Linked DNA regions of Homo sapiens. The protein of the gene in region 1 interacts with the protein of each later gene in a pairwise test. Each region holds a gene or a part of one and is shown in the gene's direction. Other genes may lie near its edges.

Evidence for each region. Proteins that work in one complex are often made in the same cells at the same time.
Region 2: the proteins of SLC16A3 (region 1) and NR2C2AP interact in binary tests that used the Homo sapiens proteins (3 or more experiments, as listed by UniProt).

The regions. Positions count from the first base shown.
Region 1 is NC_000017.11:82,224,696-82,232,061, forward strand, and holds the start of SLC16A3 (monocarboxylate transporter 4), read left to right. Parts: upstream 1-4,346; 5' UTR 4,347-4,411; exon of another isoform or gene 4,412-7,366. UniProt on the Homo sapiens protein: Proton-dependent transporter of monocarboxylates such as L-lactate and pyruvate. Plays a predominant role in L-lactate efflux from highly glycolytic cells.
Region 2 is NC_000019.10:19,200,909-19,208,344, reverse strand, and holds NR2C2AP (nuclear receptor 2C2-associated protein), read left to right. Parts: upstream 1-4,930; 5' UTR 4,931-5,284; coding exon 5,285-5,322; intron 5,323-5,463; coding exon 5,464-5,554; intron 5,555-5,769; coding exon 5,770-5,875; intron 5,876-5,946; coding exon 5,947-6,014; intron 6,015-6,303; coding exon 6,304-6,420; 3' UTR 6,421-6,625; coding exon of another isoform or gene 6,626-6,696; 3' UTR 6,697-6,781; coding exon of another isoform or gene 6,782-6,871; 3' UTR 6,872-6,936; downstream 6,937-7,436. Other genes in the region: DNA-binding protein RFXANK, read right to left, coding at 6,626-6,696. UniProt on the Homo sapiens protein: May act as a repressor of NR2C2-mediated transactivation by suppressing the binding between NR2C2/TR4 and the TR4-response element in target genes.

The DNA.
Region 1 (7,366 bases):
GCACAGACACCTGTGCAGACACAACCCTACACCCGTGCAGACACATCCCAACATCCATGCACAGACGCACCCCAACACCTGTGCACAGACACACCCTCACGCCCGTGTACACCCCCAACCCCACATAACCGGCCCTCTCATAACCCTACACCATGCATCACACCCAAACCCCATGACCAACACCCACCACAGGCAGCAGTGTGGTGGGTCAGGCCCCACTGGGCCACGGTGCGGCTTCTCCTGCCCTTTTCACCTCTGCCCCCTACCTGGGCTGCCACTCCCTGGGAAGGACCAGCAGCCAGGTTAATATGTATTTTTCTGACTTTGGGAGGCCAGGCAGGTGAATCACAAGGTCAGGAGTTCAAGACTAGCCTGGCCAAAATGGTGAAACCCTGTCTCTACTAAAAATACAAAACATTAGCTGGGCGTAGTGGCAGGTGCCGGTAACCCCAGCTACTCAGGAGGCTGAGGCAGGAAAATCGCTTGAACTTGGGAGGCAGAGGTTGTGGTGACCCAAGAATGCACCACTACACTCCAGCCCGGTGACAGAGTGAGACTCTGTCAAAAAAAAATAATAATAATATGTATTTTTCTGTGAGCCTGGACAGGTTCTCTGGGGCGAGTGAAGGGAGGGCGCAGATTTGGGCCATGGTCCTGGTCCTGGGTCTAGGCTCTGTGTGGTGGAGGGCACCAGCCTCCCCTGGCACCGTCCTGGCTGCATCCCCCATCCAGCCTGGGCACGTCCCGCCACACGCCCCGCGTGGGTCTGGAGTCTGGGGACGGTGTGGCCACAGGTGTGGAATGACAGGCTGTGACAGTTGTGTCACCAGATCCTCTGGGCAGGGAGCTGTAAGGCAGGCAGGGTCAGGAGCTGGGCAGCCCAGGACCCCAGGGAGGCGGGGCTGTGGCTCGGCCGGAATGTCCTTCCCCGTGACTCGGCTTTCTTCCCCTGACCCGGCCAGTCCTGGCCCCAGTCCTGTCCATGGGGCGGCAACTGGTGCTGGGTGGTACGGCCAAGACTGGGTCAGGACGGGGTGGCCCTGCTGGGATCTGGAAAATGGTGTGCGGGGTTCCCAAGGACGCAGGATGTGGGCTGTGTGGCTCCCCCGACCCTGGAAGGTTCCCTGGGACCTGAGATCTGGCCCTGATAGGTCCGGGGGCCTGTTCTGCCACCCTCCCTGGGGCAGCGGCTGTGGTGACCCTTGGAGAAAAGCCTCTCCGCATTTCCTAAGTCATTTCAGGACACAGAGGTAGGGACTCTCGGGGCAGCCCATGGGGAGGAAGCAGATCCCAGCCTCCCCTTCCTGCCCGCCCCCCTCCCACAAAGGTTGCTCTTGGAAAAGGTGGGACTGCGCACCCCAGGGAGCTTAAGCCTGCCAGGGAGCAGGGTGGGAAGGACCTGGGGGCCAGGCCCCTAGGAGGACATTCCAGGGCCTGGAGGGCCCTGTAGCTGGAACTGGGAACAAAAGGAAGTTGGGGCAGCCAGGGGCAGGTGGAGGCACCTGGGTCTGGGGGAGAAGTCAAGACTGGGGGCTGTGGGGTCAGAGGGGGGCGTCCTGTGAAGCTGCTCACTGGCCAGGGATGGTGCCACCTGTCCACACCCCCACCTCCTTTCCTGCAGAAAAGGGCGGCCTGGGCCTGGGGTCTGACCCAGGGCCACTGTGGGGGAGCAAGCGTTGGAGCCAGGTGTGGGGTGGGTGCTCCCAACACCACCCAGAGTGGGGTGCAGAGATGCGGACACACGTGGCCTTTCCCACCCCTTCCCGCAGCTCCAGACCCCCAGCGGGCCAGGGGATCGCACCATGGCCAGAAGTGCCTCTCCCCTGCACCATCGCTGTCTCTGACACATCCAGGGTTGTTGAGGGAGGGGCATGACCCCCAGAAGGCATCTTACCCGAAACCAAAGTGGTATTCCGTGCCCAGGTGCCCCTGGAGCCCTGTGTCAGATGGAGCCTGGCCACCTGGGCCCTGGTGCCAGGCCTGGAATGCCCCCCGCCACCAACTGCTGGGCCTTTCTAAAAGCTGAGCACTTGGAGGTCAGGGGTACCTCATGCTACCGGAGTGCCAGAATCCTCGGAGAGGGGCCCAGGGTCTCGGAGGCTCTGGCCCCACCCCACAGCGTCCTGTTCTGTCCAGGCTCCGGGTGAGCTGTCCCAAGTGGCCTGCTTGATAGCTGCGCTGCCTGTTTCCTCTGGGTAACAACCTGGCAGGCCCCCAGCCCCAGCCCCCAGCAGCCATCACATCACTGTGACCACTCTGTGGTCTTCCAGTCCCCCCAGTCAAAGCCCACAGACTTGACCTCTCTGCTGGGAGCCAGTGCTGACTGGCCTGCCTGCTCCCCTCCCCTCTGAGGGCAGGGAGGCTCCACCCCAGCTCTGGGTGGACAGTCCTGGGGCCCACACCCAGGGGAAGCCATGCCTAAGAGGGGGCCAGGCCTGGGGGTCAGAACCAAACCACAGGTGCTCCCTGGGACCCCTGGAGGGATGACTGGGCGTCTTCCCAGCTGGGAGAAAACCTGGCCCTGGCAGGGGCGCCCCTTTGTCCTTCAGGAGGCAGGAGGGGGCAGTGAGGTCCCAGGCTCTCTGGCTCTGTCTCCCTCCCCCTGTTGCTGCTCTACGGTGGGGGTTCAGGGTTCAGGGATCAGGGCCAAGCTGTAGGCAGATGTGGAAGGTGTCTCGGTGGCTTCAGTGGGGGCCCCAAGCCCAGCTGGCAGGCCTGGTGACTCAACAATCTGGGATGGGGAGCACGGTACCCTCGCCTCCCCGGCAGGCAATACCCCATAGGGGACCCATTCCCGCAGCTGTCCACGGTGCCTCGCACCCCTCTGCTGCTCTCCCTCCTCAGAAACTGATGAATCGCCTGGTGCAGGAAGATGGGAGCACCACCTGCCCTGGGCGGGAGCACCACCTGCCCTGGGCGGGAGCACCACCTGCCCTGGGCGGGAGCACCACCTGCCCTGGGCGGGAGCACCACCTGCCCTGGGCGGGAGCAGCACGGGCCAACTAAGTAGAGTCTTCATCTGTGAAGTTGGAGGCCCCCTCACCACTTGCCACAGGCCTGTGTTCTGCTCACAGGCACGTGCCCTCATCTTGATGTTTGGGGATGGGGGTGGTTGGGCCCCAGGTAGGGGTGAGGGCCAGACCCAGCCTCTGTGAATGCCAGCGGGAGGGTGGGCTTGTAACATTACATAGAAAGAACAGGCGGCCTTACTGGACCTGATGTCCCGCAAGGCTGGGCTGCAGATGGAGAGCCAAGGCCCACACGGCCTCACTGTCAGGGGTGGCCTCCCCTTGCCCTCTGGAGGGGTCCTCCATTGATACCCCCTGCCTCCTTTGTGTGTGAAGGCACGGGCTTACCAGTGCCTCGGTCCCCGAAGCCCCCGGGTCCGGGAGGGGCCAGTTAAAGCATTCCTGTGGCCCTGGCAGGGTGGCCCTGACAACTAGACTCCTTGGTCCAGGCCAACAAAGGCCTTACTCCCTGGAGCCACCTCAAACCTCAGCACCCAAAGCGGCCCGTTATTTCCATGTTGCAAATGAGAGAAAACAGGCTGGGAGAAGCACCTCACGAGGTCCAGCGGGTGGGCAGCCCTCGCCTCCCCGAAGGTGGGAGCCGCCCCGGCCTCCGCGTCGGGTTCTGGGCCGCGAGAGGGGCGGGGCAGGGGCGCAGGGCTGGAGTCGGTGGCTTTGTAGGGCCCCGCAGGGCGCGGAGCCACCTGGGGAAACGGAAGTTCAGGGAGGGCGAGGCCGTGCCCCACATCCAGGCAGCGCAGGCCGCGGGCCGCTCCCCTAGCCAGGAAGAGCCGCCGTCCGCACCGGGACCGGAGAGGAAGCGGAGGTCTGAAGGGGGACAGGTCGGACGTGGCCTCAGAGAGGGAGGATGTGGGCCCCGGAGCTGAGCCAGGCGGCCGGAACCCCACGGGACCCGCGCGCACCTCCCCACCAAAGGGGCCCCGGCGTTGGGGGGCGAGGGGTCGCTGCCCTGGAGGACGTTGGGACCTGCCGCGCTGCGCTCCGAGGCGGGGAAACGGAGGGACGGCGGGGCGGAGGGGCGAAGCGAGCCTGGACTCCGGGGGAGGCGAGGCCGGGAAGACCCAGTCCCGAGGAGCAGAGGGGGCGGGCCAGCTCCGGGCCGGGGGCGCCGACGGGGCCGGTTCCGGTTGGGGGGGTCCCTGGGCCCGGCGGGGTTGCGGGACGCGCCGTCGGGGAGCTGCGGCCCGGGAGCCCGTCCGGAGGCGGCGCGGGGTCCGGGCGGGGCGCGCAGGGGCGGCGCCAGGCGGTGACGTGCGCGGGGGACGTGCCGCGCCAGCGACCCGAGCACTTAAAGTCGCCCCCGGCGCGGAGCGGACCGGCAGAGGCGGGCAGAGGCGGCGAGAGGCGGCGAGAGGCGGGCTGAGGCGGCCCAGCGGCGGCAGGTAGGCGCGGCCGCGATGCTCGCGCGCGGGCCGGGGCCCAGGAGCTCCCCCGTGCCGGGCAAGGGGGCGACCTCGGGGTCCGCGCTCTCACCCCCACCCCGCCCACTTTGTCCATCAGGTCCGGGGGCGCCCGGGGCATGGACTAGCCTTCTCGACCCCGAGCGGGCCCCACCGAGGGCTCCCGAGAGCCAGCCGCGCCCCTCCGCGCCCTCGCATACCTGGCTGCCCAGTCTCGTCTCCCCCGGTCCGGCCCGGCGCCCACCCGTCGGGCTGCCCTCAGGGGCTGGGCTCGGGCCAGGAGATGGCTGCGCCGGCGGCCAAGCCCGGTCCGGGTATAAATAGCTCGGTCCGCGGTGGCGGGGGGCGCGGGCTATATTTGGTGGGGCTGCTGCAGCCCTCCCTGTATGGGTGGCCTCCCCGAGGGAGTGGGGAGCACTTGCGCTCGGGCCGTGGCGCTTTCCCCTGTTCGCAACACCCTGAACACTCCCCGACCCACACCCGCCCTTGGGCAATGACTAACAGCCCGAGACCGTGCAGGGAAGTGGGGGACCCTCTCCAGAGCCAGGCTGGGCTCCCTGGGTTCGCCCTACCTCCACCCCTGGCCCCCAGCTCGTGGGAAAACCAGGCGCAGCCTTTGGTAGCCTCCCACTTCCTAACCCACGCCTCAGTTTCCCTATACGAAAAGTGGGTTGGTCAGGAGCCTCCCTGGGTGTTGGGCCAGTCAAGAGACAGGAGCCGCAGAGTGGAAGGGAAGCCCTTAGCTCTGGCCGGGGCCTCCAGGGGTGGCTGGAGTCGGTGAGGGACGATGGGGGGAGCCGAGGGGCGGCTGTCCTCCTCTCTGTCCCAGAGGCATGGGCTGAAAGGGTCCCTCTCCTGGTGATGGCCAGAGTCAGGCCTGCTGGGCGGGAAATGGCAGTTGGCCCACCCCAAGGCCCAGGGGCTTGTCCATGCTGAGCACAAGGGTGGGAGGTCTTGTGTCTGTTGGGGCCGGGGAGTCCAAGGTCCCAGCTTCACTGCACAGGCCTGGAAGTCAGGTGGGTGCTGGCCTGACCCTGCTGAAGGAGGGTCTATTCCGCCAGCGTGGTGTGGAGGCGGCTGGGCTCGACTCCCTCATGGAGGGAAGGAACTGAGGAGGTGCTAGGAGGCCGTGGGGGGGTGTCTGCCCCCAGAGAGGCTTTGAGTGCATGGGGGCTCTGCCGTGGCACGTGCAGCGTCTGTCCCCCAGGGCCCCATGGTGTGGACAGAGTCTGGGGTGGGCACCTGGAGGCCTGGTCTCAAGGCAGGCTTGGTAACGACCCCATGTGACCTTGGGCAGGGCCCGCCATCCAGGCCACCCAGAAAGCCATGTGGCCTGCACGATCAGGCCAGACCCCACTGACTGGAGCGGGGCACTTTACTTTGGAGGGGCAGCTACCAGAGGGCTCTATGGATCCCAGCCCAGCCGTCAGGCCGGACGGGTCCCCCCTACTGGCCTGCAGTGACCCTTATGCCAGGCTCGGCTGGCTCAGCGGTGGGTCCTGGGGTGACCTGGCCACGTGGGACAGAAGGGCCTGTGCCGCTCCCTCCAGTGAGGTGCCAAATGTGGGCCACACTCTGGGCCCCAGCGGGGGCCTTCCGGGCAGTGGCGCAGAGCCATTGGAGGTGCCCGGGCCCTGGGGCAGGGGCGGGGCGGGAGCAGACAGAGCTCAGGGCGTCCTCCTAGCGTCACCTGCCCGAGTCAGGCCCATCTGTGAAATGGGCCACGCCGGGCAGCCGCACGCAACGGAACCGAACCGCCGGGCTCCTGCTCCGAGACCCGCAGTTCACGAGTCGACGCCCCCGAGTCCCGAGCCGCGCCCACTGGTCCCACCTCTGCAGCAAGTGGAGTCGGCCCCGCCCTGTGGCTTCGAGGCCCCGACGCCTGGCGCGGCTCCCGGGCTCCGCTGACCCCGGTGGACCCGCGCGCCGGCAATTACGGTAGCGTCCAGTAGGGCGCCTACTGCGGGCAATACGGGGGCTCCTCCCATGGCGCGGTCACGTCCCCCACGTCCCGCGGCTGGCGGGGCGGGGCCGGGCGGAGCATCCTTCCCTCCCCCTCCCCCGGGTGGGCCCCGCCCAGCCTCGACCACCCGCGCCGACCCCCGCCCGCAGAGCCGGGAAGCCGGAACCCGCAGGCGCCCTCCAGCCGTCCCTCCGGCCCGGGCGGGGATTGCGCCGAGGAGGGGCCTCTCCTGGCGAGGGTGGAGTTTTGGGTTCCCCCCTTCGCCCCGCACCTCCCGCCTTCCTGCCTCCTCCCGGTCTTCACCTTCCCCCCCGGGTCCCCACGACGCCCGCTGGGCGGCGGTGGGGTAGGGGGCGCCTCCTGACCCGACTCCCCTTCCAGCCTTGGCCTTCAGGCACTGGCTTTAGGGTGGAGGGGCGGCCTTGCGGGGTCCAGGAGGCCTCGGAGGTGGGGGACGGCGGCTCTGGACCAGCTCCGGCCCCCACCACCTCCCGGCCCCAGGGCGGTGACAGCCTTGCGGAGAAGGGGTCTTCAAAGCTCTGAGACCCCGCAGTGCCAGCTCAGGATTGAAGCCTGCGGCGGCACATGCAGCCTTCCTTTCCCAAAGGGGACTTGCGCCCAGCCCCACTTGGGGCACCAGTGGGGGCTCCTGGCCCTGGCCCTGGGTGGGAGTGGCCAATCCGCAAATGAGGCCTGTGTGTCTGCCCCGCCGGCCCCTGCCGTCGTGATGTAAGCGGACACAGAGCGGCAGGGCACGGGCTGCGCGAGGGGTCTGCGGGGGTCAGAGGTGGGGCGCAGGGCCCAGGCCTGGGGCAGCCCCTTGCGCAGCGTCCACCCCCTGCAAGCTCGGCCCCGACACCTTTGCAGGCGCCTGGGGCGGGGCTGCCGGGAGTTGCTCACTGCTCCTTCCTTGTTTGCACAACAGGGGCTGCGGGGGAAGAAGGGAACTGAGGGAGGCCCCTCCCCCGGTGCAG
Region 2 (7,436 bases), on another chromosome or scaffold:
CCTGAGCTGGGATTGGGCACCCCTCCCCAGCCCTGAGTGCCTTCTCTGTCCCCACCACCCCACTGGGGCCCTGGGCCAGGGGCTGCTGCCAGTGGGGGAGGGGTGGGGGATGGTACTGGCAGACCAGAGCAGAGGTGGGGAGGGAGGCTGGACCCTCCAAGAGAGCTGGGTCTCAGGGGTGGACAGTGCCTCCAAAGTGCCTCTGAACATGCCCAAGGTGACACATGGGTAAGTCACACACAATGCCACCAACAACCACTGACACACACAGTCACACCCCAGCCACACCCCAGCCACACTAACAGCACAGGTGGCTCACATGCAACCTCACCTGGCCACACACAGGTCTCACCCACCACACATGACCAAACCTGACCATACACAATGACACCCAGCCATACACAATCATACCTGGTCATGTACAACCACACCCAGCCATACACACCACACCCAGCCATACACAACCACACCCAGCCATGCACAACCACACCCAGCCATACACGCCACACCCAGCCATGCACAACTACACCCAGCCATGCACAACCACACCCAGCCAATGACAACCACATCCAGCCATACACAACCACACCCAGCCATATAAAACCACACTCAGCCATACACAACCACACCCAGCCATATACAACCACACTCAGCCATACACAACCACACCCAGTCATGCACAACCACACCGGGCCACACACAGGTTTCACCAACCATGCACAGGCAAACCTGGCCATATACAATCACACTCAGCCACACACAATCACACTTGGTCGTGCACAACCACACCCAGCCATACACAACCACACTCAGCCATGTACAACCACACCCAGCCATGCACAACCACACCCAGCCATACACAACCACACTCAGCCATGTACAACGACATCCAGCCATGCACAACTACACCCAGCCGTACACAACCACACCCAGCCATGCACAACCACACCCAGCCATGCACAGCCACAATGGGCCACACACAATCACATACACAATCAACCTGGTCAGGCCACACACAACCATACCTGGCCTGGGCCACACACAAGTCACACTTGCTCCACAACCGAAGGCAAAGCTATGAGCTGGGCTGCACCAGTGTCCCTCCACATGCAAACACACCCACTGCTGCTCACACCCACAACACCTTCGCCTTCCTGCCAGCAGCAAAGAGCCTACGTTGGCCCCACATTGCTCACACCCAACCAGGTTTCTAGTCACAGACACACCCACAGGTAGTGAGCACACAACCATGTTCACACCAACACCACCAATGCCACCAACCCCGAGATCTGTAGCCCTCCCAGCCACTGTTACAACAGCCACACACACGCAGCTCCTGGTGCTCCCATACACACCCACCTGAATCCTTTCACACCCAGACACCCCTCCCACTCCCACTGTCACCTCCAGTGGGACCCAGGCTTGCACTGCACCAGGACTCATAACCCCAGCTGCTACTGTGTGAACATCTGTCTCCTCGGAGAGGGGTCCTGATGGGCTCCGGTAGATAAATCAGACCCAGACCTGCCGGATGGGGGTCTCCAGGCTCAGGGAATCCCATCAAACCCTCCCTTGCAGATGCCCCAGGCTAAGACCTTAGGGAAAAGGTTACATCCATCTCCCAGTGGGGAAACTGAGGCTTGAAGCTATCTGAGGGCCATTCCCTGCCTTGTTCCAGGATAATGAAATCATGGACAGAAGGACCTGTTTTCTGCATGGGTGGGGCTGCCTCCCCAGACACCACCAAGGCAGAGAGTCCCCACTGACCCAAACTTGCTGTGTGACTGCCAGCAAGTCCCTGACTCTCTCTAAACCTCCAATTTCTCCCCAGAAAAATGCTAACCCAAGCCCAGTTAGGGGAACTCCAGAGTGAGACTGGGGTTTGCATCCCAGTTCCCCTTGGTGATCTTGGCCAAATGACTTTGCTTTTCTGTGCCTCAGTTTCCCCAAGTGAACCAGAGGAGCTGCTTTTGGACCTTCTAGAGCCCTCCCTGCCCCATTCCCTGGGGTGGGGGTGGGAGCTCTTAGTCTTTCCTCACTCAAGCGAATGAATGGACCACTTTTGGCTGCCCTGCTGGGAGCCCAGAGCTGCTAATTCCCTGGAGAAACAGGAGGCTCTTTCATGCCCAGGCGCCAGTGGGGTGAGGAGGCGGGAAGAGGGTATGGAGCTGGCCTCATACCCGTGGGCAAGGAGGCCGCATGCCAAAGCCAGGAGTGGTGTGGAGAGCCCTGGAGCCATGCATATCCTCACTGGGGGGACTTGGCTAAGTTGATGTGTCCTCAGCTATAAAATGGGAATGACAGGGACCAGCCACAGCAGGTTTAACGAGCCAATGGGTGGCGACAGAACATGGCTTCAAGTCAGACACACGGTGGACTCTCAGTGAAAGTCAGCTACTGTTACTATGTGTCAACCTGAAGAACCCAGAGAGTCCTCCAACAGTGCCGTTAATAGAATTCCCCCCATTTCACAGATGAGAAACTGAGGCTCAGAGAGGTCAAGGTGCTTTTCTAAGGTCACACAGCCAATGAGTGGTCCAGCCAGGATTTGAACCAGATCTGGGCTCTCCAGTGTCCTTGCTCTTTCTAACTTCCTTCCGGGGGTGAGGTTGGGGGCACAGTTTCCTGTCACCTCCAGCCCCAGCCCTGAGACCAGCGAAGTTGGGTTTGGATGGCACCAGACTCTGTCTAAATGCGGAAAGCCCTGGCAGGCAGGGGCTGAAGAGACAGGCCTTCTGCTGGTGACCCAGTTTCCCCGCCAGCCCCCACCCCTGCTGCCTGGGGTGGGTTTGAGCAGACACTAGTAGGATGCCGGAAGGACCATTCCTCCAGCCCTTGAAGAAAGGGGCTGGCTGCCAGACCATTCAGCTAAAGCCAGGAACAACAGCCTCTTGCCAGTGGCTGCTCTGTCTTGGAACCCTCCATTCATGCAGAACGGATGGTGTCCTGCCCTTTCTCCAACACCTTCCATGACTGCTCCGGGCCCAGCAGGATGTGGCTCCACATATTTTATTCAAATTCATGGTCTTTCACCCAACTAGGCCTTGGCTTATGCTAAGCTCCCTGCCTGGGACACCCTCCCCACTCCAGATTTTCTCACCCTTGTGAATTCCTGGCGCCTGACCCCCTATTAAGGTGCAGTTCTAACATCCCCTTTCCCAGGAAGCCCTTCCTCCAGGTAGAGCCCCTGCTCCTCCGGCCCCATCTCTCCCTTGGGGCTAGGAGTGTCTATGTCTACCTCTGTCTTGCCCAGATCAGGGGCTCCTCTGGGACAGGCCTGGAGCTGAGGCCTCTTGCTGTCCCCAGCATCATCCAGCAGAAGGCTGGACATGACAGTGTGACAGTAGAGCTTGCAGGAGGTGTCTAGTGAATCAGTGAACCAAATCTTCAGCTTGGTATCTGAGGCTTTGTTTGGCAAACTCCTGTTCATGCTTCAAAACCCACCTCACAGCCTGGGTGCGGTGGCTCACACCTGTAATCCCAGCACTTTGGGAGGCCAAGGCGGGCAGATCACGAGGTTAGGAGTTCGAGACCAGCCTGGCCAAGATAGCGAAACCCCATCTCTACTAAAAATACAAAAATTAGCCAGGCATAGTGGTGCGCACCTGTAGTCACAGCTACTCAGGAGGCTGAGGCAGGGGAATCACTTGAACCTGGGAGGCGGAGGTTGCAGTGAGCTGAGATCACACCACTGCACTCCAGCCTGGGCAACAAAGTGAGGCTCCGTCTCGAAACAAAACAAAACAGAAACAACAAAAAACACCCGACCTCGCATGCTCCCTCCTCCAAGAAGCCTTCCTTGACGTCCCAGCAGCATTTTCTGGGAAAGACAAACTTGGAGGCCAGGGCTCCTCTGTCCCAACAAGAACAAAAAGGGTTGATGAGGACTTCAGATACTCCCAACATCGTGGCCTTTTCCACAACTCTGCCTTTGGCCTCCGGGAGGCAGTGAAGTTCGGGGATTCCCAGGCTGCATTTAGTGGTTAGGGTAGAGTAGGTTAGAGTAGGTTAGGGTAGCCGTTAGGGTAGAGTAGGTTAGAGTAGGAAGAAAGACATTGTCATAGGAAGTCTCTCTGGCCGGGCGCGGTGGCTTACGCCTGTAATCCCAGCACTTTGGGAGGCTGAGGTGGGCGGATCACTTGAGCCCAGGAGTTCGAGACCAATCTGGGCAACATGGCGAAACCTCATCTCTACCAAAAAACAAACAAACAAACAAACAAACAAAATAGCCTGCCGTGGTGGCGCGCGCCTACTAGTTCCAACTATTCGGGAAGCTGGGTAGGAGGATTGCTGGAGCCTGGGAGGCAGAGGTCGCAGAGAGCCGCGATCCCACCATTGTACTCCAGCCTGGGTGACAGTGAGACCCCACTTCAAAAAAAAAAAAAAAAAAAGGCCGGGCGCGGTGGCTCAAGCCTGTAATCCCAGCACTTTGGAAGCCCCGGCGGCTGGATCACGAGGTCAGGAGATCAAGACCATTCTGGCTAACACGGTGAAACCCCGTCTCTACTAAATATACGAAAAATTAGCCGGGCGTGGTGGCGGGCGCCTGTATTCCCAGCTACTTGGGAGGCTGAGGCAGGAGAACGGCGTGAACCCAGGGGGCGGAGCTTGCAGTGAGCGGAGATCGTGCCACTGCACTCCAGCCTGGGCGACAGTGAGACTCCGCCTCAAAAAAAAAAAAAAAAAAAGGAAGTCTTTCGGATTCCAAAATCAGTCAAAATCAGTGCTCTACACCTTCGGGCGCCGAGGGACAGCGCCCCGTGCGCGCAGCCAGCCTTTTCCCTACAGCTTCAAGGGAACCAAGGTAAATTCAATCATCGAACCCGGGCCCTTTAAGAAGCGAGCATGAAGGGGCGGGGTCGAACCAAACCCCACCTCTGGAGCGTCCGCGGTCGGCGCCTGAATTACAACACGCATGCGCCAAGCCCACGCGGTTCCGGGTCCCAAGATTTGGCTCCAAGAGCTATTCGCAGAGAAACAGCCTCGCACAAAAAGCCACCGCCCCCGAAACCCGCGGGAAATCTGTTTCCTGTGAAAGGCCTGGCCTCCGGGCATTGGCGGTTTCCCTGATCCTCTCTCCCAAATTTTCCGGCAGGGGATTGATCGAGGCGACATTTAGGACTGGGGTGGGCGAGGGAGTGGCGGTTCTCGTCCCAAGTTACAGGTGAGGACGTTCAGGCCAAGGCGTAGCCAAGATCGCGCCGCCCTGTAGCTTGAGGAGGCGCCGGGATTCGAACCAAGGCTGTGCCCAATCCTAAGCCCTGCGAGGTCTTGTGGAACCGACATGACCCACTCTTTGGTTTGTCCAGAGACAGTGAGCAGGTAAGAGTCTGTGGGGACAGGCAGTGGCGAGGCCCTAAGCCTGGGGTCGAGCCCTCAGTGGACAGATCTGGGGGTCAGGCCCTCCGCGGAGCTGAGAGCTGGTCTCAGCCCCTCTCTTCGCCTTGATCCTGGTGCCTCCAGGGTGAGTTCAGTGCTGAATCGCAACACTCGGCAGTTTGGAAAAAAACATCTTTTCGACCAGGATGAGGAGACATGTTGGAACTCAGACCAGGTGAGGCGCCTCCCTCGACCCTCCATCTCTAGGGTGATTCAGATTCAGATCTCATGCCTTGAGAACGTCAGGGGGCCCTCATGGGTGGCCAGGAAAGGAACATGTGCCGAATTTCCTTCTTCCCCTCCATTCCAAGAACTATGTGAATGAGACAGGCATAGCAGGGCTCTGTGCCTGCAGTGAGCTTGCGCCTCAGTTTCCCTGTCTGCTTCCAGGGCCCCTCCCAGTGGGTGACGCTGGAGTTTCCCCAGCTCATCCGTGTCTCCCAGCTGCAGATCCAGTTTCAGGGTGGCTTCTCCAGTCGCCGGGGCTGCCTGGAAGGTACTAGAAGGCCCTGGGTGGCAGGGGTTCCAGGGGTCACCCCAGACACTCATTGCCTTTCTCTGCTGAAGGTTCACAGGGCACTCAGGCTCTCCACAAGATTGTAGATTTCTACCCTGAGGACAACAACTCGCTTCAGATATCCTGCCCCTGCTTCTGGGGTGGGTGGTCTGTGCCTCTGGAAGCTTTGGACTCACCCAAACCCGAATGGGAACCCTGATGTGTGATCTTGAACACGTGACCTCTAGGACTCCACTTTTTCTGTAAAATGGTGCTGATGACCACCTGTTCTGTGTGAGAGGCTTAGAGGGACCTGCAGCTTCCCCAGGTTGCCCACATCGGTGGAGTGTGAGCTGGGTCTGGAAGGGGTGGGGGCCTGCGGGTGGGAAACCAGAAATCACCAGTTTCCCTTGACTGCCCACGCTCACACTTTCCCCATACCAGCTGCTGAAGTGGACCGGCTGAAGGTGACGTTTGAGGATGCCACTGACTTTTTTGGCCGTGTGGTCATCTACCACCTGCGGGTGCTTGGGGAGAAGGTGTGAGACCTCTAGGGGCTGTCTCCTCCAGGAAGCCCTCCGGGAAGCACAGCAAAGTCCCTCATTCTGCACAGAAGGTTTATTGGTTCCTCTTGGGAAGGGTCCCCTCCCACCACCTGTCCAGAAGCTGCCTTTGAAGTCAGTTCTGGGTTTCCCCAGCTCTGGCTGACCATTTTGTTCCCTGAGTGTCTGAGTCCCCGGCAGGCGGCCTTCACTCAGGGTCAGCGGGCACCAGGTTGCTCTGGAAGAGCTTGAGGATGTGGTTCTCGATCACCTGTTGCACTGAGATGGGGCAGGGAAAAGGTGGGCTGTGAGCTTGAATCGGGAGTGGGGTGGAGGCACAGGCCAACCTGCGCTCTCCCCTTAGGGGACAAACAGGGACCCTTGCAGAGACCTGCATTACAGAGCAAAGCTGGGAGAACCGAGGACTCACCCCAGGAACCTCAACTTCCCCTAAGTTTGTAAAAATGCACTTTTGTAGCTTTTCAGAATTAATATAAAAATATTTCCTACCAAGCAAAATGTGTGAATTGTGACTTTCATGAAAAGATGAGCCTGGGCATGGTGGCTCACACCTATAATCCCAGCACTTTGGGAGGTCCAGTGGGGAGGACTGCTTGAGCTCAGGAATTTGAGGCCAGCTTGGGCAACAGAGCAAAACGCTGTCTCTACCAAAAAAATTTAAAAATTAGGCTGGGCTTGGTGGCTCACACCTGTAATCCTAGCACTTTGGGAGGCCAAGGTAGGTGGATCACTTGAAGTCAGGAAAGGCCAGCCTGACCAACATGATGAAACCCCATCTCTACTAAAACTACAAAAATTAGCCAGGTGCAGCCGGGTGTGGTGGCTCATGCCTGTAATCCCAGCACTTTGGGAAGCTGAGGCGGGTGGATCACCTGAGGTCGGGAGTTTGAGATCACCTGACCAACATGGAGAAACCCTGACTCTACTAAAAATGCAAAAAATTAGTTGGGCATGGTGGTGCATGCCTGTAATCCCAGCTACTTGGGAGGCTGAGGCAG